4 linked regions of the Homo sapiens genome follow. The protein of the gene in region 2 interacts with the protein of the main gene of each other region in a pairwise test. Each region holds a gene or a part of one and is shown on either strand. Other genes may lie near its edges. The genes, in order: TRIM55, USP13, ATXN3 and TRIM63.

Region 1 (7,000 bases), on a different chromosome or scaffold from region 2:
CCACGAGGATGGCGATGCCATCACTGAGCTCAGACTAATGAAGAGAAAACATGAACCCAATATCTTAGGGGTTTCCTAGCCACCCCGACTGTGAATTGGTCATAATATTGTCTTTACAGGTTCTTAATTTAGGATCCATGCAACCCCTAAGGACTAACAGGGAGGCCTGTGGACCTTCTGATATTGCAAGCAAACCTTTGTGTATGAATCCATTTGTGCAGGGAAAGGTTTCACAGTTTTCATCAGTCTTAATATTAAGATCAACATGTTCAAGCTAAAGAATTCTAAGTATTGTTTATAAATAGCATGGAGACCAATATGTGACTTCAGGGACCCAAATGGAATTATTTGCCTAGTGGAACTAAGGGTCAATTTTACTTGGGAAATGTGTATAGTAAATACTCATTTATTCAACAAATACTTATTATGGGCATAAGAATATAGTGTATACAGACACAAACACTCACACATTAGACTAAGTCATTACAAACTTCACACTGAAACAAAGAACTAGTTCTAGGGGAGAAATGTCAACTTTTAAATTCCTTTGCTCTTTTGACTTAGGAAGAGATTCTATTGTTCCTATTTACCCCCTTCCCAAGACTGGCTGATGGAGCCACCAGGAGCACTGGAGGGGCACTTGGGAGACCCATGCGCTTGGTCCAACTCTACCCCCAACTTCTCTGTGATGTTGGGCAAAACATATATTCAATTTTGACCCTAATTTTCTCACATTTAGAAGGAGAAGATTGGACCAGAACAGTGATTATAAAATATTTTAAAGCTGCAGAACCTTCTTCAAGTGAAAGCTAATATGGAGGTGAAGCTGCTTTGGCCAAACAGGAGCAAGGGTGAGGGTCCCACCAGTCTGTTCTTCTGTCCATCTCACATGAGTCTCCAGGCTCTGAAGGAAGGAGTGTGAAACAGCTACCATCCAGTTCTATTATGCTATGCTTTGGGGGAGGTGGGCAGAAGAGAAGGGGGAATAAATTGTAACTGGATTCAAAAATAAACAAATGTTGTGGATAATTTGCAAAATCTGTTTCTTTAGGACTTAGTGGCCACTAGCTGTAATTGGTGTTGCCCAAGAGTTTTGCTTCCAAATTTGATTTCAGCACTGATCTTCACAGTAAAACACTGATCAAATGTGGAACTGATGATTCTAAATGAAAGAAACTGAGTAGTGGAACTGCTCAAGTTCTCGGTGCCTGGAGTGGCTGCACCTATTGGAGTACCCAACTCCACTTTTATCTGTACCAGATGGATAAATTCTGACCTGCTCATGAATGAAACCAGGTTGGCAGGTTGGTAATGTGTAGAGGGAGACACTGTCTTTCTGTCTGCTCAGAATTAGGGGGCCATGGCTGAGGCCCTGGGGTCAGGGGGAGACACCACACTCAGAGGGGTTTTTAGGCAACTGGCCCTGGTGACAGGAGGGCCAGCACAAGTCTGTGTTTTAAAGCTGTTCTGTAACTGCATGTCATCAGTGTAACCCTCCCTCACTAAGAGTGCGGGATAAAAGGCATTGAGGAGGGCCAAAGAAATCTTTCATGGGTGGATGAAGGAAAGTATTCTGTGACTAGGGTAAAAAGCTGTCCTTTTCTTATCTGTAGTCTAAACTTCACATAAGCTGGAGCAGTTTGAGCTTTTGCTGGGTCCCCTAACATTGCTCATCATCAGCAACCTCCAAAGGGCACAAAAACAGGGATCGTGCCGTTCTGCACCACTTCCTGAACCTGGGCACCCCTGCCCTGTCTCGCCTGGTCCCCCACCGTCCAGGGAATTTGGTGTGTGCCTCGTGCACAACTGTGCACATGTCTTCCTGCAGACCTTGTGTGCCCTCCAGTGTCCCATGGCCCTGCGTGGCTTGGGCTTCCTCCTCCACCGCAGGGAGCCACTCACACTGGCCCCAGGAAGGCCCTAAGGTGTGGGGATGGGGAGGGGTTGCGGGAGGGAGGGAGCAGCTCTGTTACCTTCTGTCTCTGGAACACATGAGTGAGGGGAGCCACCTGGCAGTCTTTGTGTGCACCAAACACCTTGCACAGAGAGCAGGTGGGTACTTCGCAGTTCAGACAGTAGATGTTGATGCGCTCCTCTTCATGTTCCTCGCACATGGGCTGGTCGGATTTCTTTTCTGGCCTGGGAGGAGGTAGGCAGATAAATGTCCATCAGCTCTCACTGGGGCAATCTCATCAAGGCAGAGCTGATGTTGCTCTGCCTTGCAAATTCCTTCTCTTCCCTGTATGCCCAGCAATTCTATTCCAGAAGACCCCCAGGGGCCCTTTCACATGCTCAGAGCCCACCAAATTCAGCTTCCCTGCAGGTGTAGCAGGGGAGTGCTGGCAAATCTCTAACAACCTGCTTGGGGTAGGGACAGAGACGTGGAGATCCTGATTTGTACCATTTGCCCATTTCCATGGTGTATTTCCACATGGCCAATTTTAAGTTATTTAAGGTTTCAGAATCTGGTAGTGAAATTCCTGAAAGTAGAATATCGAACCCTGGTGAGCCATCAGGAACGTGGTCCAGCACTGTGTCTACATGCTCACAAGTTTCTCAAGGGACACTTTCCCATTATGGACCAAGAACAGGAAATTGTTGATGAACTAAAAGTCGAGTTTGCACCAGCTTTTAGGAGTAGCTAGATCGCCCCCCTCCAGCCTCTGGCCCCAGGAAAGACCCTTTTCACCTGAAGAAATGAGGATAGGTGTGGCTCACATGGAACCAAAATCTTCTGATTATTAATTCAAGTACTGGTTGGATGCAAATGTGTATGAGACGCAAGTGTGGGTGTACCTCCTTATATAAACCCCAGGAATTCTGATATATCCTATCTAATGACTGAGGCTGCTAATAGTTTTCAGAAGTATTCAAAAAATTCAAATCCAAATCCAGAAGCTTTCTTCAAATTTCCAAACACATAGTTATTTAGCAACATCTTAGATTTGGGACTACATTTTGTTTTGTTGCTATACAGATCCAATTTTTAAAAACTACAGGTTTTTATGAGCCATGAAATCAATTTAGGGAGCTATGATCTGCATTGTTAAAATAAAAATAGAATGGAATAGCAAATACTGTGAATTACATGTAGTAAAAATAAGTATTGCTGTTCGAAACTTTTGTTTCAGGTGTACGTGTGTATATATGTGACTGAAACAAAAGTATATGTGTGTTTGTGTGTGTGTGTGTGTTTGTGTATGTGTGTATATACATATGTGTGTGTATATATATCCGTCCATATATGTAAGTGGTCACAATGTAAAATGCACTTCCTACTGTAAATCATGAATACAAGTGTTTGAAACCCATCTTTTTTGATGTGTGGTATCTTGTAGCTGCAGACCCAGAACTCAGAGAAAGGCAGAGAACGTGCTGATGTGCCTCTGTAAGACGCTAATGTTCCTTTATAAGTTGCTAGGTGGACGTCAATTACTTGAGATTAGGCTAAACATTGGGAGAAGCCCTGGGTCTTGTAAGAAAATTGCACGGACTTCCAGTTTCAAAATTTTAGAATCTGACTGTTGCAAAAGGAATTTCTGTCTGGTCTTGCAGCAATATGCTTTCCATGAAGTCTATGACCTTCTGATTTGACCACATTATTTGGAACTCAAATAAGGAAGTCAACTCCACAATTGAGAAAATTATCCTCCTCTCAGGTCTGTCTGTTTCCTCCACTAGAATATCAGCTCCATAAGGGCAGGGGCCATGATGAGTCTTTTTTTTTTTTTGCTGCATCTCCAGTACTCGGAACAGTGCCTTGCACAGAGGCAGTGGCTCCATAAATATTTGTTGCACAAATGAGTGAGACAATGAAAGGGAATTTGACCTATTAAATGGACAGTATTCCCTGTGCTCTAGTGTAACACCACCCAGCTGGAGAAGGCATGGCAAATATGGGGAAAGCCTGGGATCACCTGGCACTCCTGAGTGGCAGAGGAAGAGACCAGACCACATCCTGATTACTCCTTTAATAAATGACAGTGCCCTCTGGGGTTGGGACTGGCAAGTTGGTCTCTGCCTGGTCAAAGGCTTCTTCCCCTCTAAACCCTTCCCTCGTAGGTATCTCCACCTTATTATTAATGTGGGCTAAGCAAGAGTGGGCAGCTTGGGTCCCACATGCTGTTCTGATATCAACAGCTGTGACCAGAGATTGCGTCATAGAGCACAGGTCTATGCAGTATATGCAAATATTGAAAATGTGAAAACAGCCATAAGGCTCTACATTTAGTTTTGTTTGTGATTCAATTTATTTATTTTTTTCATGGTGCTGTATACACTGAGAACAATTTCCCATATTCCTCATTGGGTTTTTCTTATTTAGGTTGTAGCCCAGCCCCAGAGGCACCACTTACTCATAGATGAGCATATAATGAAACCTCTGTACAACTTCAAACATGTAACTGACTTGGGACCGATTTGGCATGTAAAAGAATGACATAAATACATGTTTATGAGGTGAGAGCAGCCAAGCTCACAGCTGTGGTCAGGGCCCAGTGCTAAATGTTGGCTGTGGCCCCTCACCGTTCAGTGTAGGCTAGACTGAGAAGTATGTAGCCTGCTGTCTCTGGTCTCTGAGGTTCCCGGGGCCACCCTAGAGTTTCCTGAGGAGTGGGCATCTGGTCTTGGTGAGGCAATTGAAGTAGTAACTTTGTAGTCAAACTGATATTTTTTTTGAGATGGAGTTTTGCTTGTCGCCCAGGCTGGAGTGCAATGGCTCAATCTCAGCTCACCGCAACCTCCACCTTCCCGGGTTCAAGCATTTCTCTTGCCTCAGTCTCCCAAGTTGCTGGGATTACAGGTGCCTGCCACCACACCTGGCTAATTTTTTTGTATTTTTAGTACAGATGGAGTTTCACCATGTTGGTCAGGCTGGTCTCAAACTCCTGACCTCAGGTGATCTGTCCACCTCAGCCTCCCAAAGTGCTGGGATTATAGGCGTGAGCCACTGTGCCTGCCCAAACTGATCTTAAAGCTTCATTTCAGCTCAGCTTCTCCATGTAGTGGCTATGTGGCCTTAGACAAGTTACTTAACCTCTTCTGGTCTCAGTTTTTACTCGTATCAAATATCAGATTAAGGGTCTTCTAATTAAATGTGGCAGAATGAACACAAGCATGTATTTATTTATGTATTTATATATGTATGTATGTATTTATGTATTTATTCTGCTGAAATCCCAGTGAAATGAGGATAAGGAAATAAAAGGGCATAAATCAATAAGGACAAAAAGTGAGCACAGATGACAGCAGATGAGAGATGTCAACCAAATGTTGGAAATTAGGAACATCTGGATGAAGGGACATGACCTACTTGAGTTGCATCTTAGTTCTGTTACATTCCTGCAGTGAGAAGCTTACAATAAGCAAGCTGACTTGAGCTATGGAACCCTGGAAAGGCTCTGGAACTGCAGGAGCCAGTAGTCCTGAAGGTGGAAGTAGGCGGTGACAGACTGGGAGAGGCTGAAAAGAGGAGGACTTTGTGCATGTTTTAAGAGATTACTTGAGGATGTGCTCCATAGAAATAAGAGAGTAAGCCACCAAACAAGGAGACCTGGAATCCAGGGAGCAAGGGGTTCAACCCAGGGGGAGAGTAAAAGAATTCCCAAGTAGAGGTAAAGCCCAGCCATGTGAGGGCTCAGTCCTAATTGTCTACAGTGGAAAGTCAATAGAAAATGTCTAAAATTGAAAAATCAAAGAATAGGAGCATACCAGTAGTATGCACATGTCATTGGTGATAAATAGCAGAAAAACAGCTAAAAGAATTAAAAGTGGTTGACTCTGGGGAATGAGGCTTGGGGGTGGGTAAAGAGAGAACAGAGTGGAGACTGCATTTCTCTTCAGAGGCCCAGTAGTAATGAATTCTAAAAGTTGTGTATGTTGATTACTTTAAGGCACTAAAAGCTTTAATAGGGTAGCAGTAATTATAATAATCAACACCTCACCGGATTATTGTGAGAATTAAAGAATTGCACATGATTCATGTGTTAGGCACCCTGAACAGTGTCTGGCATGCAGCACATAGTAGTTTTACTTGTTATATTTTAAAGTTAATTATTATTATATTAATTATTAATATTAGCCAAAATAGTACCTTCTCTTACCATCTCCCACTCCCAACTGTGGCTAGTCTGGCACCATGCAGAATTCTGGATAAGAATGCCAAGTTTTGGCTGGGCGCAGTGGCTCATGCCTGTAATCCTAGCACTTTGGGAAGCCGAGGCGGGTGGATCAAGAGGTCAGGAGATCGAGACTATCCTGGCTAACACGGTGAAACCCCATCTCTACTAAAAATACAAAAAAATTAGCTGGGCGTGGTGGCAGGTGCCTGTAGTCCCAGCTACTTGGGAGGCTGAGACAGGAGAATGGCGTGAACCTGGGAGGCAGAGCTTGTAGTGAGCCAAGATCACGCCACTGCACTCCAGCCTGGGAAACAAAGCAAAACTCCATCTCAAAAAAAAAAAAAAAAAAAGAATGCTAGGTTTTGTGGAGACTTACAGTCTCCAGCCTTTCTGGAGGAGGTCAGAGTTGACTGACAACATCCCAGTCTGTGATTGGTCACCCCCCCCGACCCCCTTCCAATAGCCACAGCTGAACTCTTTTCATTCTGTATATCCAAGGTCATTCCAGTGTTACCTAATGTACCCTGAGGCTCAAGATTCTGGTCTAGTAAGGCTGTCTGCCCCCAGGGGACAACTGCGTTTCCTCCCAGACATGTGGCCAAGTGCTCTGTGCAACTTGTGGTTTTGCTACCAAGTAAAATTGTCCCACAGGAAAGTCTCAAGTTCAAGAAAAAACAGCATAACAAAATCACAGAAAATCACAAAAGCATCCCTAGTTCACTCAACTATGAGCTTTATTGTTGGAAATTTGGTTCATTGCTTTTACGCAATTTACTTCCCAGGCCTGGGTACTATTTTTGGCAGCTGCACCAAGCCAACTTCATAGCTAAGGTGAAGATGTGTTTTGTAGTTTTACCAATACTGCAAGTTTTAACATCTCT
Region 2 (7,055 bases):
GTGATAACTGCAAAACAGTGTGAATGTACTCCAATGCCACTGAACTGTACATTTTAAAATGGTTAAGATGGTAAAGTTTATGTTATATGTATTTTATCACAACTTAAAAAATAAAAAGAGAGAGAGGGAGGTAGAATGGATGATACCATACACCTCTCAATCTGGGGCACTAAAATGGATGGCCGCTCCTTTAACTGAGCTCCAGTCCATAGGGAGAGGAATGCAGGGGAGGAAAAAGAGAATTCAGAGTTGCACAGATGTCCAGATCCAAAATGAGCAGAGAACATGAACTTTTCCAAAAAGTCTTTCTGACAGGATCAGCATCATCTCTCACATTCCAAAGCTCTAAAAATGGTACAACTTTAAAGGTAATGAACTACTGTCCAAAAGGGACAGCAAGTGACTTCTTGATTATGATTTTAGAAAAGCAGGATTTTAGGGTACACATGGCAAATGACACAAAGACATCCATTTCACTCCTTTCTGAAACCCCAATCAAAGGACAGCAAAGGGATTTTTTCAAGACATAAGCTATAGCACTAAAGTCTGGAAAGCTGGACGGCAGGTAAATGAATGCTAAAAGACTAAGATGGCAACAGAGCTGAATCCTAGGCCAGCAGCAGGGAAAGCCAAGATCCAACCTGATCTTCACCCCAGAATGCCCAAAAGACTCCAGAACTGGCAATTCAAGATAACTCTGGAAGATGGGGTGAAGTAGGAGCTAAAATAAAGAGAAAGGTTTTCTATGTAGCCGTCAGAGCCCCAAACCTCACCTCCACTCCAAGAGGCCCCTCCCTCTCCTGGCAAAGAACTAGAGAGTGATTCTCTAAAGCAGACAAAAACAAAGGTTTCAGCGCTGGGGAAGAATGAGCTTAGTTAAGAATAGAGGCACCATCACGAACATGGGGACTAAGAGAATGTATGTGTATCAGTCCAGATTTGGTCAGAAAATAGATGCTATTCAGGTATTACAGGCAGGAAGAGATTTGATACAGGAAATTAAAAGCTTAAAAAATCATGGAAAGGGCATGAGAGCCACAGTCAGAGAAATCACTGCCTATGTTCAGGAACTCAGGATGTACAAGCGTCACAAGAAACTGCACAGATGACGTCAGAATCCCCACCACTGAGGTAACTGTGTCCCAGAAGGACACTCAGATGCTGCTAGGAAAACCTCACATCGACCAGGTGCCACAGTTGCAATAGCAAAGTGGCTTCTCCTTCTCTTTTGCCTTCTAAATCTCTTACTGGAAAAATCAGTATCAGAATCTTGCCACCAAGGGACTCTGGGAAATGCAATGTCCAGGAGCCAGCCCCTGCAATGATGGGAGAAGCTTAGCAAAGCAGGGACACAGCTGAGAACCTACAGGCAATATCCAGCTGGTATCGAATACCCAGATGCTGAGACCACCTTCACCCTCCACTCCCACTCAGTTCCCTAAATACTGGTAGACAGGCCTGTATTTTCCAGGCAAGAGATTAGAATAGTCTCCTACCTGGTAGCCAAAGGAAGAAAAAAAAATCACACTAACATTTAAGCTTCCCCAAAGAAACAGCCCAGCCAGGTCACCCTACAATGAAACTCACAGTTCAGAGAATAAAAAAAAAAAAATCCTATCTATGAAATAGTAAATTCCCAGCTCAAGTAGCTCTAATTTTTTCAAAAAGTGTCAATCAAACTCTCTAAATTTTAATTTGCTTCAAAAAGAATGTGCATGCAACATATGACATCTATGGTTGAGCTAAAATTAAGATAATAATTTAATGTGAACCCATAGGCTACATTTCAGGTGAGGTAAGTGACTGGAATAAGTGGTTATATCTTCTTGCCTAAACTCTAGAACTTTGGTTTCCAAAGTAAGGCCTGGTAACCCTCTGACACCCCAGAGTCTTTAAGTAATTTGGGAGGTCAAAACTATTTTCATAACATGAAGTTACTTGCCTTTCTCTCTCTCATTCTCTCATAGCACACAGTGGCATTTTCCCAAGGCTACGTGACATGCAATGACATCATTTCAAAAGCCAATAGAATGTAATTGTTCAAATTGTTTTAAATTTTTCTCAGTTTTAACTTCTAATATGGTAAATAGCAACAGAAATCACACAAAAGCTTTTTGCGGTTCTCAAAAATAGTTAAAGAGTATAAAGAGGTCAAAAAGCTTGAGAATCACTGCTCGAGAACAACTTTTCAGCTAGTTGCTTTTGGAAGGAAGCTTTTGACATGTGAAACTAATAAGATTTACTTTAAGTTTATATCTTCAAAGTGGAAAAAAGTCTGTCTGCTCTGAAATTTTGCTTTACTACCTTGTATCAGTTTATCCATCAGGAGGAAGAGTTTTCCACAGAGATCCTAAATTAACTTTTTTTTCTCCCTACAAGTAAACATTATGATGGGAAGTCTCATTGACTGCAAGGCAACGTGCATAGTACAATGGTAAAATGCAGAGAATCTACAGGGACTCAAACAAATACTTGTACACCAACAACTGAAGCAGCTTTATTCACAACAGTCAAAAGGTAGAAACAACCCGATGTCCATTAACAGGTGAATGGACAAATAAAATGTAATACATGTACATATATATGATGGAATATTATTCAGCCTTAAGAAGGAAGGAAATTCTGATGCATGCTACAACACTGAACCTTGATAACATTATGCTAAATGAAATAAGCCAGACACGAAAGGACAAATACTGTGTGATTCCACTTATATAAAGTGCCTAGAATAAGCAAATTCATAGAGACAGAAAGTTGAATGGACATTACAAGGGGCTAGGAGAAGGGAGAAGTGGGGGTTTATTGTCAAATGGATACAGAGTTTCAGTTTGGAAGGATGAAAAACTGGAGATCGACAGTAGTGATATTCACACAACAATGCATAGTGATAGTTACACAACAATGCGAATGTAATTTAATGCCACTGAATTGTACAATTAAAACGAGTTAAAATGTTTCCATGCGAATGTAATTTAATGCCACTGAATTGTACAATTAAATCGAGTTAAAATGTTTTGTTTGTTTGTTTTTTGAGACAGAGTCTCGCTCTGTCGCCCAGGCTGGAGTGGAATAGCGGGATCTTGGCTCACTGCAACCTCTGCCTCCCAGGTTCAAGCGATTCTCCCTGCCTCAGCCTCCTGAGTAGCTGGGACTACAGGCGCCCGCTACCCAGCCCGGCTAATTTTTGTATTTTTAGTAGAGACGGGGTTTCACCATGTTGGCCAGGCTGGTCTCGAACTCCTGACCTCATAAGGTGATCCACCCACCTCAGCCTCCCAAAGTGCTGGGATTACAGGTGTGAGCCACCGCGCCCAGCCAAAATGGTTTTTTAAAAACAGATTCTAGAGTCAGACAATTCAGATTCACATCCCAGCTCTCCTACTTACTCTCTGGGTGATCTTTGTACTTGAGTTTCCTGATCTGCAAAATGGTAATAGTATATAACATAGGGTTGTTGTGATGATTAAATGAGTTCATGTAGGTATAATAATATATGCAATAATTAGAAGGCTTGGAATGATGCATGGCACCTAGTAAGTGCCCTATCACTCGGTCTCAAACTTTGGCATGTCTCAGAATCATGCAAAGAGCTTATTAACACACAGACTGCTACACCCCCACCCCCAGATCTTCTGAAACAGAATTAGCAGTTCCCAAGACATGCTAGTGCTGCTGGTTCAGGGAGCACGCTTTGAAAACTGCTCTATATACATGTGAGATGTCATTATTATTACTGGCAATGCCTGAGAGAATACCAGGCACACCACTAAATACTTGTGGAAGAAAGGACAGAAAGACAGAGGATTCACTGAGCCCCTAACATGAAGTGTTCCCACAAGTAGATGGAGATCTCAAAGTCTTTCCTGGTGGATATCTAAACCAGCCACTCCCACCTGATGGCCCCTGTCCATCAGAGTTTCCAAAGACTCCCAGGAAGACAAAGAACCAACAGTGACATCTCAATATCACCGAGCCATCTCAGAGCTTTCAAAAATGGGAAAAAAGCTCCTTCTTAAAAAACAGTCCCAATGCGAGAAGGGAAGAAGAGGTGGGAGTAAGGGGCAACCATTTATGCTGAGTATCATATCCCCTCCGGCCACCTTTTTGGTTCAGCCACTGTATGCAGCTGATTGTCACAGCAGGTGTGGCCCAACAGTCTTAGCCTCAGCTGCACTGAGGACCTCTTGCTTCTCAGCTGCTGCTGGTCCTGCTCAGCTTGTCAAAATACTTCCCATTTGCAGGCTTAGTGCCTATAAATACAGACTTGGAAGAGCGAGGGCTTTTCCACCCCTAGAACAAACCTTGACCAATGGGGGATGGGAGCCAGTGGATAAATACAGTACTCTCCCCAGCTCCATCTCAAGTGGACAATTCTGAGGCACATTCTGCAGTTACCCAAGGAGTCCCCAGTGAGGTTTAGCTCTAGCTGCCCACTGTGGAAGCCAGCTCCATAACTCACTCTTGGACTGGCTTTCCTTCTTTCTCTTTGTCACTATTCTCTTGCTCATAATTCCACTTCTGTTCCCTGGGATAACTTTCCAAAATAAACTGCCTTGTCTAAGCCTCCCCGTTTTCAGTTGACCCAAGCTAAGGCAAGGCATAAACAGCTCCACTTACAATGCAGGTGGGGAGGGGGGCAGAATTAGCACAAGAGAGCCAACTATGAGGACAGACTAGAACCGCTGTGCGGCATGACACAGACTCTACGTAATGCAGGCATTCAGAGGAAAGGATGAAGTCTGAAGCAGAAGATGAAGGTTGAGAGAGAGCCCAGACAAATGATCACAAGAGGAAGGTGGTCTTAGAAAAGGAAATCAGTTGGCCAGGTGCAGTGGCTCCCGCCTGTAATCACAGCACTTTGGGAGGCCAAGGTGGGCGGATCACGAGGTCAGGAGTTCAGGACCAGCCTGGCCAACATAGTGAAACCCCGTCTCTACTAAAAATACAAAAAATTAGCCAGGCGTGGTGGTGGGCACCTGTAATCCCAGCTACTCAGGAGGCTGAGAAAGAAAAGGAAATGAGTCTTACACATGGACAAGCCAGAGACTCGCCTCACTGGAACTGACCACCTGGAAACTGAAGAGACACAGGACAAAGTACACTCATAGAAATGAGGAGCTCAACAACCAAAGAGATGAGAGGAGATTTCCATGCTGGTCCAGGGAGGCTTATGAGCAGAAGTGTGAACCAAGACATCCCTCCTCCACTTAAGCACACAAAACTTCCTACACAACCCCTGACAACCAGACTCTTGGGCTTACAACTTGTGATTAACTCTTTTTCTTTCTTTTTTTTTTTTTTTTTTTTTTTTGAGACGGAATTCCCCTCTGTCACCAGGCTGGAGTGCAGTGACGCAATCTCGGCTTACTGCAACCTCTGCCTCCCAGGTTCAAGCGATTCTCCTGCCTCAGCCTCCCGAGTAGCTGGGACTACAGGTGCGTGCCACCACACCCAGATGATTTTTGTATTTTTTTTAGTAGAGACAGGGTTTCACCACGTTGGCCAGGATGGTCTCGATCTCTTGATGTTGTGATCTGTCCACCTCAGCCTCCCAAAGTGCTGGAATTACAGGTGGGAGCCACAGCACCCGGCCATGACTGACTATTTTTCTTTCTTCTTTCTTCCTTCCATTCTTCTCTATTTCCTCCTTTTTAATTTTTTTATTTTATTTTATTTTTTTGAGACGGAGTCTCACTCTGTTGCCCAGGCTGGAGTGCAGTGGTGCAATCCTGGCTCACTGCAACCTCCACCTCCTGTCAAACTCCTGACCTCAGGTGATCCACCTGCCTCGGCCTCCCAAAGTGGTGGGATTACAGGCGTTAGCCACCGCGCCCCGGCCTTTCCTCCTTTTTTAAAGCAAATGTGTATGTGATTACTAATTGGCCAGACACACTTTATGTATTAATTTATTTAATCCACAAAATAACCTTTTGAGATAGGTTGTTACTGTCTCCATTTTACAGATGGAGAAACTGGGGCTCAGAGAAGTTACACACTGAGTGACGGAGATAGGATTCAAACACTGCCAGTCTGGGCTCTCTCCTTCACGACTGTCCCCAACAATCAATGAAATCACCTCATTCTATGTGGTAATCCCCCATGATTCCTTTCTCAGTATTTCCCATATGTTTTATCCTCACCATGTGCAGGGCCTGTAACTCCATGGAATTCATACATTTCCAAAGCATTCACTGAGCTCCTGGTATATATACCAGATGCTAGACCAGCTGCTGGAAATAACACAAAGTCCCCACTCTCCAGGAAGGTCGCACTCAAAGGCAGAGACAAGCACGTGAACATGTCACTGGGGGTTAGACAGGAATGCTTATGGGGTCTGGTGGAAGGCAATATGGAAATGATTCATAGAGCAAGAACCACTTGAATTCAGTCTTGAAAAGAAGCTCCACTGGGAAGGTGCATTACAGACCTTGCACAATGAACCAAACCATGGAGAGGTGAACCTACACGTCAAGGTGGGAGGGTGGGTCCAGGATGAAATCAAAGAGGTAGGTGAAAAACAAATTCTCACTCATCCCAAAATAGCTGTTATTGAGCATCTGCTATGTGTTAAGCCCTAGGAGGTGGGAAGAAGGGAAGAGAGATACTAATACACTACTCATATCCCACAAAGGTGAAGAATGGCAAAGGTCTACAGACAGTGCCTTAGACATGGTAGGTACACTGTGAATTTGTTGATTCACAATCTTCCTCCAACACCACTTTAAATCACATGACCAAGAATAGCTTTCCATAACTGACCATATAAAATCAAGATCAAATGTTTTCCAGATTCAAGGCCCCCATCATCTACTCTCTACTTGGTTCTACCTCACTTCTTGCTACTTGCCAAATGTATCTTTTTATTCCAAATACATTACAGGCAAATTAGTGGGAAATATTCACACGTTGTATCTTCTTTGCACATATAATTTCCCTGGCCTTGAATGTTGATCTCCCTTATTTTCTAGCCATCTTTGTACATAACCTTTTTCAACAGTAACCAATGCAGGGATGATTTCTTTTTTCCACTCAGCTGGTTTTGGCCTTTTCCCTAA
Region 3 (7,000 bases), on a different chromosome or scaffold from region 2:
CATTGCACTCCAGCATGGGCAACAGGGCGAGACTCCGTCTCAAAAAAAAAAAAAAAAAAGAAATGTGACTTAGTGAGTTTAAAATCAGTACCTGTAAAAACGTGCGATAATCTTCACTAGTAACTCCTCCTTCTGCCATTCTCATCCTCTCCTCCTCATCCAGCTGATGTGCAATTGAGGATAATTCCACAGGGCTAAAATATTCTCCTTGCAATAAGTTATTCAGGCAATGTTGAGCACAAAGTGAGCCTTCTTGCTAATATTTCCAAAAGAAAAAATTAAAATGTGACTTGTTAAACAGAATTGTATAGTATCTTCCCCTAAATAATTTTTTTTTTTTTTTGAGACGGAGTCTCACTCTTTCACCCAGGCCGGAGTGCAGTGGCGCTATCTTGGCTCACTGCAAGCTCCGCCACCCGGGTTCATGCCATTCTCCTGCCTCAGCCTCCCGAGTAGCTGGTACTACAGGCACCCGCCACCACGCCCGGCTAAATTTTTGTATTTTTAGTAGAGACGGGGTTTCATCCTGTGTTAGCCAGGATGGTCTTGATCTCCTGACCTCGTGATCCGCCCGCCTTGGCCTCCCAAAGTGCTGGGATTACAGGCGTGAGCCACTGCGCCCGGCTCCCCTAAATAATTTAATCATTAATTTTTTTTTTTTTTGAGACAGAGTCTTGCTCTGTTGTCCAGGCTGGAGTGCAGTGGAGCAATCTCAGCTTACCACAACCTCCGCCTCCCGGGTTCAAGTGATTCTCCTGCCTCAGCCTCTCAAGTAGCTGGGACTACAGGCATGCACCACCATGCCTGGCTAATTTTTGTATTTTTAGTATATACAGGGTTTCACTCTGTTAGCCAGGCTGGTCTCAAACTCCTGATCTTGTGATCCGCCTGCCTCGGCCTCCAAAAGTGCTGGGATTACAGGTGTGAGCCGCCACACCTGGCCAACTTTTTTTTTTTTTTTGAGATGGAGTCTTGCTCTGTCACCCAGCCTGGAGTGCAGTGGCATGATCTCGGCTCACTGTAAGCTCTGCCTCCTGAGTTCACGCCATTCTCCTGCCTCAGCCTACCAAGTAGCTGCGACTACAGGTGCCCACCGCCATGCCCGGCTAATTTTTTGTATTTTTAGTAGCGATACGGTTTCACAATGTTAGCCAGGATGGTCTCGATCTCCTGACCTCGTGATCTGCCCACCTTGGCCTCCCTAAGTTCTGGGATTACAGGCAAGAGCCACCCTGCCAGGCCCCTACTATGTTTTAACATAGTTGAACTGAACTTTCAGCTTTAGATAAGGATAATTAACATAGGTACATGCATTTTCATTTGGTAACATTTATTTTACAAATCTACCATTAATGAAACTATAATTACATGATCAAAAATTTAAGAATTATTTTAAACAAACATCATCTATCAAATGCATCAAATCTCATATTTTACTAAAAACTACTGTATAAAACATTTAGTCTCCCTCATTTTCAGTACCTAAAATAAGTTCATTCTTGGAGATTCTACAGTAAATTACTAATGGTGAAAGGAAATTTTAGTCCCTAGAACAGTTATTTATTTATTTAAAAAAAGAGATCTCACTATGTTGCCCAGGCTGGACTTGAACTCCAGGGCTCAAGGGATCTTCCTGCCTCAGCCTCCCGAGCAGCTAGAACTACAGAAACATGACACTGTGCCCAGCTCCCTAGAACATTTATTCTTTTAACATGATGATGTCAGTCAAGCATGGTGGCTCACACCTGTAATCCCAGCAGTTTGGGAGGCCGAGGTGGGTGGACTGCTTGAGGCTGGGAGTTCGAGACCAGCCTGACCAATACGGTGAAACCTCGTCTCTACTAAAAATACAAAAATTAGCCAGCATGGTGGTGTGTACCTGTAGTCCTAGCTAATCAGGACACTGAGGCATGAGAATCGCTTGAACCCAGGAAGTAGAGCCTGCAGTGAGCCAAGACCATGCCACTGCCACTCCAGTCTGGGTAACAGAGCAAGACTCTGTCTCCAAAAATAAAAATAAAAAAATCTCCACACAATCTAAATGCTTGTTGATAGAACTTCAAATCTTAAGAATTAATACAGGTGAGAAAAATTCTGTTCCATGTTAAAACTTGCAGTTACAGTGCTGAAGTTCTCTTCATGGAACTCTACAGATAATGTATACACAGTGTAAAGCAATGAGCAGAACTGTCCCAAACAACCCTGGAGCTCACTCCTGGACAAGCCAGCAAGAGGGACTGCACCCAAGCTCAGCTCCCATGGGATGACAGGATTCCTCCTCATGGGAGGTAGGTACAACTTCTCATGGGTTCAGGGCCTTCAGGTGCTGGGCAGTTTCTCACACAACTGGCAACCTGAATCCAAGTCCAGGGTGCCTGGTACTAAGTAGCCTGCGTGTGACCCTCCTCCCCGCAACAGTGTAGCTTTCCCATGCTACCTGATAAGAAGGGAGAATCACAGATGGATGGATCCCTCCCTGTGAACACAGACACCAGGTTTGCCCCTCCCTGAATTGACGGCAGATGAGAGAACATTTCCTTCTCCTGCTAACCTTGGCCCTCCAAGTTCTCTCTTTCCCCAATAAGGTCTATTCCTTAACCCAACCTATCTGACATCACACAATTTGTCCTGAGCTATGTCACACAGCAGACTCTAAAGAGAACCACCTTGCAAGACGGATATTTTTCCTGATGAATCAATTTTCTAGGAGCAAAATTCAGCTGGTGAAAAAAATATGGGTTATATGTGTATAATGGAATAGGAAGACAACATTGAGACAGCCTCAGTCTGAGATAAGTTTATCTTCAACTTTTCGTAAGGAATAAGTAGCTTGGAGCTAGAGAGAACACTATCCCCCAAGTCTTCTCATGAGAATAGACTTTTTGTTTCCACTTCTTTCTCCTCCTTATATATTTCTACTACCAGAGTGCAACTCTTACTGAATAATATGCAAATTGAAGGGATATACAGATGTTCTACTTATATCCTTTTGAAAAATAGCCAAGGCTGGCTGCGGTGGCTCATGCCTGTAATCCCAGCATTTTGGGAGGCCAAGGCAGGAGGATTACTTGAGCCCAGAAGTTTGAGACCAGCCTGGACAACATGGTGAAACCCCATTTCTACAAAAAATAAAAAATTAACTGAGCATGGTGGTGCGTGCTTGTAGTCCAGCTTCTTGGGAGGCTGAGAAAGGAGGATAACTTGAGCCCCAAAAAGGTCGAGGCTACAGTAAGCTGAGACTGCACCACTGCACTCCAGCATGGGTGACAGGGCAAGACCAAGAAAGACAGAAAGACAAGAAAGACAAGAAAGAAAGACAGAAAGAAAGAAAAGAAGGAAGGAAAGAAAGAAGAAAGAAAGAAAGGAAGGAAGGAAGAAAAAGAAAGAAAGAAAAGAAAAATAGGCAAGACAAACAAGCACTTCACAAGACAGTCAAATGGCTATAAAGAACACAAAAGAGGTACTCAACTTTATTAGTCATCAGGGAAATGTAAATTAAAACCACAATGTGTTAGTACACAAACTCTAAAATGGCTAAAATGTTGGAGATTAGAGATACAGAAACTGTTGTATACTACTGATGAGAGGATAAATTGGTATAACCAATAATAACTAATAATTATGTAATGCATCCACTAAAGCTTAATATATACATCTCCTATGATCTAGCAATTCCATTACTAGGTACATAATGTAAACAACAGCAATGCAAACATACATTCATCAAAAGACATGTATAAGAATGTTCACAAAAGCAGTATTTTTGTGCCACAAATAGCATTACTATTTGTAGTAATACAAAATAGCATTACAGATAGCATTACTATTTGTAATGGACCCCAAACTGGAAACGACCCAAATGGATAGCTGGGATCACAGTAGAATGGAAATTGTGTTTACTCACAAAAGAATACTAGATAACAATGAGGATGAATTAACTACAACAGTAGTTAATTAACAATAATTAACAGTAGTTAATTCTGGAACAGTATGGATAAATTTCTCAAACAATGGTAAACTAAAGAGGACAGAATCGAAAGGGTATATACACTGTACACTTCCAGTCACAAAAGCTCAAAATCAGGCAAAACTCATTTATGATGTCAGAATTCAGCATAGTGGTTATATTTGGTGGGAATGCAGTGGAGAGACAGTACCTAGAAAAGGGAATAATGGGAGGTTATAGGATGCAGGTAAATCTTTTGTTACTTGCTGTTTACACATGTTCACTGTGTGAAAATTCGCTGAGCTGTACTCTTAATGATTTGTGTGCTCCTCTCTGTATTGTATCTAATTTTTAAAAAATTCAAACAGTAAGAAAAAAGCCTTTGCTAACACAAATTTCCTGTCTTGCTGTCAGTTTGGAGTTTACAAACTATGGTCACCATACTTAATACCATATATAGCAATAGTGACATCCAAATATTTGATTAAAATTCTCTCTATAAAAAATAGCTTTAAATTATGAAAAATAAGTACTTGAAATCAAACTTCATCAAAGAAAAACTGTATTGCTACAGGAAATATCAAGTTCTGTACTTCTAATATGATTTAATGGAAGGAAAGGACAAACTGTTCAGTACAAATTTAAAAATCACTTAAGGCTAGGCACAGTGGTTCATACTATAATCTCAACTGTTTGAGGGGCTGAGGTGGGAGGATCACTTGAGCCCAGGAGTTCAAGGCTACACGGAGCTAAGATTGTGCCACTGTATTCTGGCCCAGGTGACAGAGCAACATCATGTCTCTCAAAAAGACACAAAATAAATAAAAATAAAAACAAAAATAAACATAACTTAAGTCATAGGACGGATCAAATTCCACATGGACCAAAAGAATTGTACAATGACAATGAGCCCACGTAAGATTATGCATTTTCCTGCCTTGCCCTTATCTCAAACTATCCCCAGCCACCTCTCTCATCAAGCTTTAATCAAAGCAGAAGTTCACTTTGCCATAATCAAAGTTCAGCGGTATTGAAATCTCATGATTTGGCTGGGCATGGTGGCTCATGGCTGTAATTCCAGCACTTTGGGAGGCCAAGGCAGGTTGATCACTTGAGATCAGGAGTTCGAGACCAGCCTGGCCAACATGGTGAAACCCCGCCTCTACTAAAAATATAAGAATTAGCCAGGTGTGGTGGCAGGCGCCTGTAGTCCCAGGTGCTCAGGAGGCTAAGGCAGGAGAATCACCTGAACCCAGGAGGCGGAGGTTGCAGTGAGCTGAGATTGCACCACTGCACTCCAGCCTGGGTGACAGAGTGAGACTCTGCCTCAAAAAATAAAAAATAGGCTGGGCGTGGTAGCTCACGCCTGTAATCCCCGCACTTTGGGAGGCTGAGGCAGGTGGATCACGAGGTCAAGAGATCAAGACCATCCTGGCCAACATGGTGAAACCTCGTCTCTACTAAAAATAAGAAAATTAGCTGGGCATGGTGGCACATGCCTATAGTCCCAGCTACTCGGGAGGCTGAGGCAGGAGAATCTCTTGAACTCAGGAGACGGAGGTTGCAGTGAGCTGAGTTCGCGCCACTGCACTCCAGCCTGGTGACAAAGTGAGACTCTGAAGAAAGTTCGTGCCACTGCACTCCAGCCTGGTGACAGAGTGAGACTCCAAAGAAAGAAAAGAAAGAAAGAAAAGAAAGAAGGAAGGAAGGAAGGAAAGAAAGAAAGAAAAGGAAGAAAGGAAGAAAGGAGGGAGGGAGGGAATAAATAAATTAAAAACAAAAAAAAAAATAAAAGAAATTCTATGATTTTAGGCCCAGACTTCATTGTGTTGGGCTCAGAGAATTAGCAAACTGCAGTTCTACAAAGATAATGTATAAAATCACAAAAGAGAACTGCTACCAAATCATTTACCCCCAACCTCCCCAGGTTTTCAAGACCAACCTGAAACTAGTTCAAATTACCAGAGACACTACTAACTACAACACAAATCAGGTATAAACCTAAGGTGCTCTCGGGAATGGGCTATCTGGGGACAAGCTGTCAATCTAGCAGCATTTCTCACCTCCTCTTAGTGCTCTCCGAGCCCTTACTATGAGGTTCAGCAAACACAAGCACCTGAGTAATGGCAATGGCCAGTACTTCTACAGCACTATCTGCCAGGGAGCCTTCTCTACACTCTAACTCTCAGGTTATGTCTATGTTATTATCCCCACACTACAGAGGAGGAAACTAGAGGACAGGGATACTAAGTAACTTGCTCAGGATCACACAGGTAGTAAAAGGCAGAGCTGAGACTCAAACCCAGGCAGAGGTTTCAAAACCTGTGCTATTAGCACTTCAAGTCATTTATACAGAATTTGGCTTCTCCTAAAGCTCAAATGTCCTAAAGATGGCTAAAATCCAGCAATCACAAAAGGGCATAATGAATGCCACAGAGTCAATGCTCAGCATCTTTTCAATCTTTTCAATAATTTTATGTACAACCCCAGCAAGTTTAGATATTATTACCAGTTTGCATTACATTAAAAGCACCAATACAAATGGCACAGTAACTGCACCAAGAAACATCAGCAAGAGGATTAAAAAAAAAAAAAAAAACAAAGCAGGCACCAGAACTAAAACAAACAACAACAAAAATCCAGTAGTGGTCATAAAGTTAGTACAAAGGTTTAAGTTAGGGGTTGGCAAACTCTAGCCCATGGGCCAAATTCAACCTGCCCCAGTAGCTAAGAATGCACTTTACATTTTTACATGGTTGGGAAAAACATGCACAAATAAGAATGTGTGACAGAGACTACAGCTGGCCTGCAAAGCCTTAAAATATTTACAGAAAACTTGTTTACTTTAGATAAACAGCACCATATATATCTCAGAAACTCAAAGCCATCTCTTTATCCATTCAAATATATACATTTTTTTCTTTTGAGACAGGATCTTGCTCTGTCCCCTAGGCTGGAGTGCAGTGGTGCGATCATGGCTCACTACAGCCTCGACCTCCCAGACTCATGCAATCCTCCCACCTCAGCCTCCCAAGTCTACAGGCATGTGCTAAC
Region 4 (6,885 bases), on a different chromosome or scaffold from region 2:
TCATGCCTCAGCCTCCCAAGTAGCTAGGATTGCAGGCATGCGCCACCACGCCCAACTAATTTTGTATTTTTAGTAGAGACGGGGCTTCACCATGTTGGTCGGGCTGGTCTGGAACTCCTGACCTCAGATGATCTGCCCTCCTTGTCCTCCCAAAGTGCTGGGATTACAGGCATGAACCACTGCACCTGCCCAGCCTTAATCTGCCTCTTCTTGATGATTTTCAGTGAGCCTTCAGTGAGCCTTCAGTGAGCACGGGGAAGTCCCTATAACCTGCAACTAAAGCATTTAAATTTTGCCTCAGGCTCTGTTTTCTGGAGAACCAGAGCAACAACACATTGAACCTGTTCTTGAAGGACCAGCTCAGGGCTGGCTTTCCATGGAGTCCACATTGGGAAATGGTGGTGTCGAGAACTCCTTTACTGGGACCTAAGCCTAGCCCTGCCATTGCCTCCTACCAGGGGTCCTGTTCATTCACACTCAACCCTCATCTCCAGGAAAAAAAGGCTGAATGAAACCCCGGCTCCTTTGAAGAACAGGAAGAGAGCATTGTGCATTTATTAAAACAACATATAACACAAACTCAGTTACCACCCCGTATGTCTGGGATAGGCACTGAAATACAGCACATCGTCCCTGTGAGTGCTACCCCATCCTCCTGCTCAGGAAAGGAAGTGGGCAGCTGTATCAACCTGGCTTCCTTCCCCTCTTTCTGACAATCGCAGGTCACCCAACGACCAGGCATTATTATACAAAAGTTCCTTTACAAAAAGCACCAAATTGGCATACATATACAAGTATATACAAAAATCACATTTTAAAAATGTACAAAATATTCCATTTTGCACCAATGTAGAAAAGTGTCCTGTGTGATTGTTTCAAGCACGTTTCCAATTCTGGTTCAGTGTCTGCTGGACGCAGCGGTGAGGGTCCTACCCTAGTCCCTGCTCTCTGAGCAGAGAGAAGACATCACCTCCCCATTGCCCCTCCAGGGGCCCCGACCCCTCCCACCCTGGGCCTGTCACCAAGGCCGCTGGGCCCCTCCCCACCCTCTCCAGTCTCTCTGCATCTGGGGGCCTCTCATTCATCCAGCTCCTTACTGGTGTCCTGAAATGAAGAAAAAGATACAGAGGCAAGGGGTGAGACAGGGACTCAGGAGGATCCAAGGCTTACCAAGCTACTGTTTATTCAAACAGGAGTTTGAATAAAACATCAAACTCCAATTCCTCCCGGTCTCTTCCTTTTAAAACCAAAATAGAATTTAGCTGCCCAAATATTATGGATTGTACATCAGTACAAAACTCCAAAAGACTACCTATAGTTTTCAACTGGATTGGAATTTAGTTTCAGTACCTGTGGTTTGAAAAATAACATTTGCAAGCATGTGCTAATTAGCAAACGTCCTTCCTATGCATCAGACACCGTGCTAAACGATTATCTTATTCACTTCCCACTACAACCTTTTGACGTCAGTACTGTTAGACCCCCATACACAGATGAGTAGCCCAAGACTCAGAGAAATTGTGAGCTGCTGTGATTCAGAACCCAGGCTCCTAATCAAACTCTGCCAGGCTGGCAAACTCAGATGCCTACAAGGAGCCAGCAGATAACATGAATGAGTGAAGCAAGCGGGACTGGTGGTGGTGGGGCTGGGCAAACTGGCAAGGGCATGTCCCATTTTTCTTTTCTTTTCTTTGTTTTTTTTTGAGATGGAGTTTCACTCTTTTGCCCAGGCTGGAGTGAAGTGGCGTGATCTCGGCTCACTGCAAGCTCCGCCCCCCTGGGGTTCTAGCGATTCTCCTGCCTCAGCCTCCCAAGTAGCTGGGATTACAGGTGCCCGTCACCACGCCTGGCTAATTTTTGTATTTTTAGTAGAGACGGGGTTTCACCATGTTGGCCAGGATGGTGTCAAACTCCTGACCTCAGGTGATCCGCCTGCCTCGGCCTCCCAAAGTGCTAGGATTACAGGCGTGAGCCACCATGCCAGCGTGTCCCCTTTAAAGGGGAGAGCCACTGCCCAGAGCCAGCACTCTGGGACTACAAGGAAGTTCAAGTCCAGCATTGTTTGCTTTTTCTAAACTTTCACAAGGTGAAAATGCAGATTCTTAGTTCAAATCTCCTTTTTCTTAACCCTTAAAAAAAACCTAATTTTAAAAATGTTAGCAATTAATTTTTTCTTTTAAGAGACAGTGTAGTGTCCTCTGTTGCCAAGGCAAGAGTGCAGTGGCGCAATCATAGCTCACTGCAGCCTCTACCTCTTGGGCTCAAGCAATCCTCCAGCCTCAGCCTTCCGAGTAGCTAGGACTACAGATATGTACCACCATGCCTGGCTAATTTTTAAATTATTTTTGTAAAGACGAGGACTTGCTGTTGACCAGGCTGGTCCCAAACTCCAGGTCTCAAGCAATCCTCCCGCCTCAGCCTCCCAAAGTGCTGGGATTATAGGCACGTACCACCACACCCAGCCAGCAAGTATTTATTTATTTATTTTTTGAGATGGAGTCTCACTCTTGTCACCCAGGCTGGAGTGCAGTGGCACGATCTCGGCTCACTGCAACCTCCACCTCCCAGGTTCAAGCGATTCTCCTGCCTCAGCCTCCTAAGTAGCTGGTACTACAGGCGCCTGCCACCAAATTCAGCTAATTTTTTGTATGTTTAGTAGAGACAGGGTTTCACCATGTTGGCCAGGCTGGCCTTGGCCTCCCCAAGTGCTGGGATTACAGGCTCGAGCCACCGTGCCTGTCCAGCAAGTAGTTTTGTTTGTTTGTTTGTTTGTTTTAATTTAAACACAGTGCTGGCCAAACAAAACACCTCAATGGGCCCAGCCTAGCTCATGAGCCCCTGTCTTTTCCCTCTGCTGTGCCATATTGCTTTCCATTTAAGAAGATCATTTAGATGTGAAATGGGAGCATTTTATTATGAATAGTTTGGGGTTTTTTTCTTTTCTAAGGGTAAAGAGAACAGGACTTTACCCTCAGTAGGGTTAAAGCACGTGCTGGGGACAGTTCTGAGCGTCATTGCCAATGTCTAACACAGTGCTTCACATACAGTAGGCACCTCAGATTGTTGTGGAATGAATGAAGGAACGAAGGAATGGAGGTAGATGAATTTCTTACCTTCTTCCTTCCCTTCTGTGGACTCTTCCTCTTCCTGATCTTCTTCTTCAATGAATTCTTCCTCTTCCTCATCTGTGACAAAAAAACATTTGTGTTAGGATGGGGCCGGTTCCTTGAGGAGCTACTTGAAGAGGAACCAGGCAAGAGAGAGCACGGTCTAAACCCCTTCCTGTGCCCAGTCGGGTCAAACGGCCACACAGCGGCGGCAGTGGTCTGGGAGGGGATGGGCTTGCCAGACCCACGCTGCACAGAGGCCCTGCTCCTGCAATCCCCCGCACTCCGTCCCAGGGAGCTGGGCTCAAGTCACTTCCTTGCTCCAGCAACAGCAGCTTCTATCACCTGCTCGCCTGTGACCAGAGAGGGGACTCTGAGGAAGCGCACTCTGTGCTTCTGCACATCTCTCGGGTAGGCAGATAAACATTGCCTGAGGAGGAAAAACCTCCTCGATCCTCAGGGATCAGAGTCCTTGTCTTGAAGGAAGCTACTTAGCCTATGAGATCTGCTTGTTCAGCAGCCACTGTCCCATTTTCCTCATTCCTTAGCCTGTGGAGGGGAGGGGTGGACATGATGGGGAAGCACTTCTGGAGCCACCTCTGCTCCCTGAAGCTGAGCACCAGAGGGACAGTGACTGAGCTGCAACTCATGTCCCCACTTTTTTATCCTGAGATGTCACCGTCAAGCTTTAACAGGGAACATCTCCCTTCCCCGCTCCTCTCCCAAGCTACCTCCTTAACCTTTTGGGGCCCTGAAGGGGTCACCACAGAATCAGAACATTTGTCAAGAGTATCTTCAGGCCAGGCTTGGTCGCTCACACCTGTAATCCCAGCACTTTGGGAGGCTGAGGCGGTCAGATCACCTGAGGTCAGGAGTTCAAGACCTGCCTGGCCAACATGGTAAAACCCTGTCTCTACTAAAAATACAAAAAATTAGCTGGGTGTGGTGGCATGCACCTGTAATCCCAGCTACTTGGGAGGCTGAGGCAGGAGAATCTCTTGAACCCAGGAGGCAAACGTTGCAGTGAGCTGAGATCACACCATTGCACTCCAACCTGGGCGACAAGAGCAAAACTCCGTCTCAAAAAAAAAAAAAAAAAATAGTATCTCCAAAATGACAACCAAAATTCCAGCCAAGTAACTGATATCAGAGTATAACCCAGGGAGTTCTGTTGTTTAATCATTGTCACAATGACTACATTTAATAGCAGTTGCTGAGTACTTACTATGTGCCAAGTAGTGTGCTCAGTGTTGAATCTGCATCGTCTTATAAAATCCTCACAAGAGTTTTGCAAGCCAAATGGCCCTCAGTAGAATCTGCACAGGCTACTTGCCAGCTGTGTGGCCTTGAACAAGTGGCTTACCCTCTCTGAGCTTTAAGTTCCCTCAACTACAAAATAGAGATGGTAACAGAACCTATCCCATGAAGTTGTGTTAAATGATAAAACTTATGTTAAGGGCTTAGCGCCTAGGACATACAGAATATTCAGTAACTGGTGACTGTTGGTACTCTCCTCATTTTACTTGTGGAGAAACTGAGGCTCAGGGAGATTAGGAAGGCCAGTGCAGGACTTCACAATGTTATGTTCACACCGTATGACCCACTCTTGAATATCTATTTCTTTCTTTTTTTTTTTTTTTTGAGATGGAGTTTCACTCCTGTTGCCCAGGCTGGAGTGCAATGGCGTGATCACAGCTCACTGCAACCTCCTCCTCCCGGATTCAAGCAATTCTGCTGCTTCAGCCTCCCGAGTTAGCTGGGATTACAGGCATGCACCACCATGCCCAGCTAATTTTGTATTTTTAGTAGAGACGGGGTTTCTCCGTGTTGGTCAGGCTGGTCTGGAACTCCTGACCTCAGGTGATCCACCTGCCTTGGACCCCCAAAGTGCTGAGATTACAGACGTGAGTCACTGTGCCTGGCTGACCCACTCTTGAATATCTTAGCTTAGGGAAGCTGACAGTGGAGCAGCTCACTACAGCAGTGGATGTCCCCAAGGCCATTGGTGTCTCTGCTTTGGGATGTATTTTGTCCTTACCTATGAATGGGGTATATCTGGGGCTCTGAAAACAGACTTAGCACCAGCTACTGAAGGTTTGTAGGAGAGCGACACAGGAGGTGCCAAGAAGCTCTTCTCTTTCTCACGCCAGCCATTTACAGTTCTTCCTTGTTCCTTCATCATCCCCTTGTCCCCCAACCTCAGCTGGTCATTGGAGCACCACCTCTCAGACCAACGCAACAGTCAGCAATGTGGGATCTGCCCTCTCTTTCTCTGTTGCCTTTTAGCTGTGTTTCCCTTTTAGCTGTGTGACCTTTAGCAAATTAACATATTTGCTTCCATTCAGTTTCTTCATTTCCTTTGTTATTTTCACCCTTATTATTGTTACGGTTGCATTGTTACAATTATTATAGGCACTCTATGGAAGAGTAATTATAAACAGAAATGAGGACATGATGTTGATCAATTAAGGTGCCTGGGTATCATAGGTGATAGCATTAAGAAACTGAAGCTAAGACTACCTTTAGGCAATAACTAGTACATCTTTAGGGCTCTACAGGACCTTTCTGCATTGATATCTGATTTTTTGCAACAGCACCATGAGTTGGTCATTATTAGAGGGCTCACTTCTAACCTGACTTTTTAAATTAGAAAATAAAACTCAGGCAGAAGGGGGCTTGCCAAAGGTCACACAGATAAACAAATGACAGAACCAGGATTTAAACTCAGGACTGTCTGATTCCAGAGGGCATATTATTTCTACTGCCCCAAGAGGCCTCCCTGCCATGGATCCATATGTAATTTATGAAGCAGGAATTCTGCACCAGGCACTGTGCTAGGCTCTGGGCTCATCTAGAAATCGACTATATGAATTTTTTTTTTTTTTTTTTTGAGATGGAGTTTGGCTGGCTCTTTTGCCCAGGCTGGAGTGCAGTGGCACAATCTCGGCTCACTGCAACCTCTACCTCCTGGATTCAAGTGATTCTCCTGCCTCAGCTTCCCAAGTAGCTGGAATTACAGGCACATGCCATCACGCCTGGCTAATTTTTGTATTTTTAGTAGAGATGAGGTTTCACCACGTTGGTCAGGCTGGTCTCAAACTCCTGACCTCAAGTGATCCGCCCACCTTGGCCTCCCAAAGTGCTGGGATTACAGGCATGAGCCACCACAGCCGGCCAGAAGTTGGCTATATGAGTTTGATTGATATTTGGGGATCTTTATTAGTGTATCTGCCTCCCCATCGGGCTCAGTTGGAGGGATGCTGGTTTCCAGGGGTCAGGCAGGCAAATAGACAAGTGGCATCACCACCTCCTTTACCTGTCCCAAAGTCAATGGCTCTCAGGGCGTCTGCTATGTGCTCTAAATCCAAAGTAAAGAAGTCCATGTTCTCAAAGCCCTGCTCTGTCTTCCCCAGCTGGCAGCCCTTGGAAGCTTCCACAATGCTGCAGGGGAGACAGAAAGAGAGGCAGGATGAGGTCTCTGGGGCTCAGTGCAGGGAAGAGAGGGCACATGCTTTGCCACGCCCAGGCCTTCTACCCAGAGGCTCCCCTGGAGGGATGGAGTATTTCCTCTCCAACCTCAAGCACAAGGAGTGGTCCAAAAAGTCAGGGATGCAAAGGGTCAGGGAAGCCAGCCTAGAGTGAGACCCTCCCAGCAGGCCTAATGCCCAGGATGAGGCTTCCTGGACAGAGGTCCTGGTGGGAACTAGGTGCTTGGATCATAGCCTCTAGGAAGACACTGACCTTTTGATGAGTTGCTTGGCAGTCTGCAGGGGGAGAG

The links.
Region 1: the proteins of USP13 (region 2) and TRIM55 interact in a two-hybrid assay, tested with the Homo sapiens proteins (2 studies listed by BioGRID and IntAct).
Region 3: the proteins of USP13 (region 2) and ATXN3 interact in binary tests that used the Homo sapiens proteins (3 or more experiments, as listed by UniProt).
Region 4: the proteins of USP13 (region 2) and TRIM63 interact in a two-hybrid assay, tested with the Homo sapiens proteins (2 studies listed by BioGRID and IntAct).

Annotation. Positions count from the first base shown.
Region 1 is NC_000008.11:66,130,129-66,137,128, reverse strand, and holds part of TRIM55 (tripartite motif-containing protein 55), read right to left. Parts: intron 2,140-7,000; coding exon 1,974-2,139; intron 35-1,973; coding exon 1-34. UniProt on the Homo sapiens protein: E3 ubiquitin ligase that plays an important role in regulating cardiac development and contractility, muscle growth, metabolism, and fiber-type differentiation.
Region 2 is NC_000003.12:179,656,019-179,663,073, reverse strand, and holds part of USP13 (ubiquitin carboxyl-terminal hydrolase 13), read right to left. Parts: intron 1-7,055. UniProt on the Homo sapiens protein: Deubiquitinase that mediates deubiquitination of target proteins such as BECN1, MITF, SKP2 and USP10 and is involved in various processes such as autophagy, endoplasmic reticulum-associated degradation (ERAD), cell cycle progression or DNA damage response.
Region 3 is NC_000014.9:92,096,583-92,103,582, forward strand, and holds part of ATXN3 (ataxin-3 reference isoform), read right to left. Parts: intron 257-7,000; coding exon 92-256; intron 1-91. UniProt on the Homo sapiens protein: Deubiquitinating enzyme involved in protein homeostasis maintenance, transcription, cytoskeleton regulation, myogenesis and degradation of misfolded chaperone substrates.
Region 4 is NC_000001.11:26,050,780-26,057,664, forward strand, and holds the end of TRIM63 (E3 ubiquitin-protein ligase TRIM63), read right to left. Parts: intron 6,872-6,885; coding exon 6,849-6,871; intron 6,549-6,848; coding exon 6,424-6,548; intron 3,186-6,423; coding exon 3,114-3,185; intron 1,105-3,113; coding exon 1,094-1,104; 3' UTR 522-1,093; downstream 1-521. UniProt on the Homo sapiens protein: E3 ubiquitin ligase. Mediates the ubiquitination and subsequent proteasomal degradation of CKM, GMEB1 and HIBADH.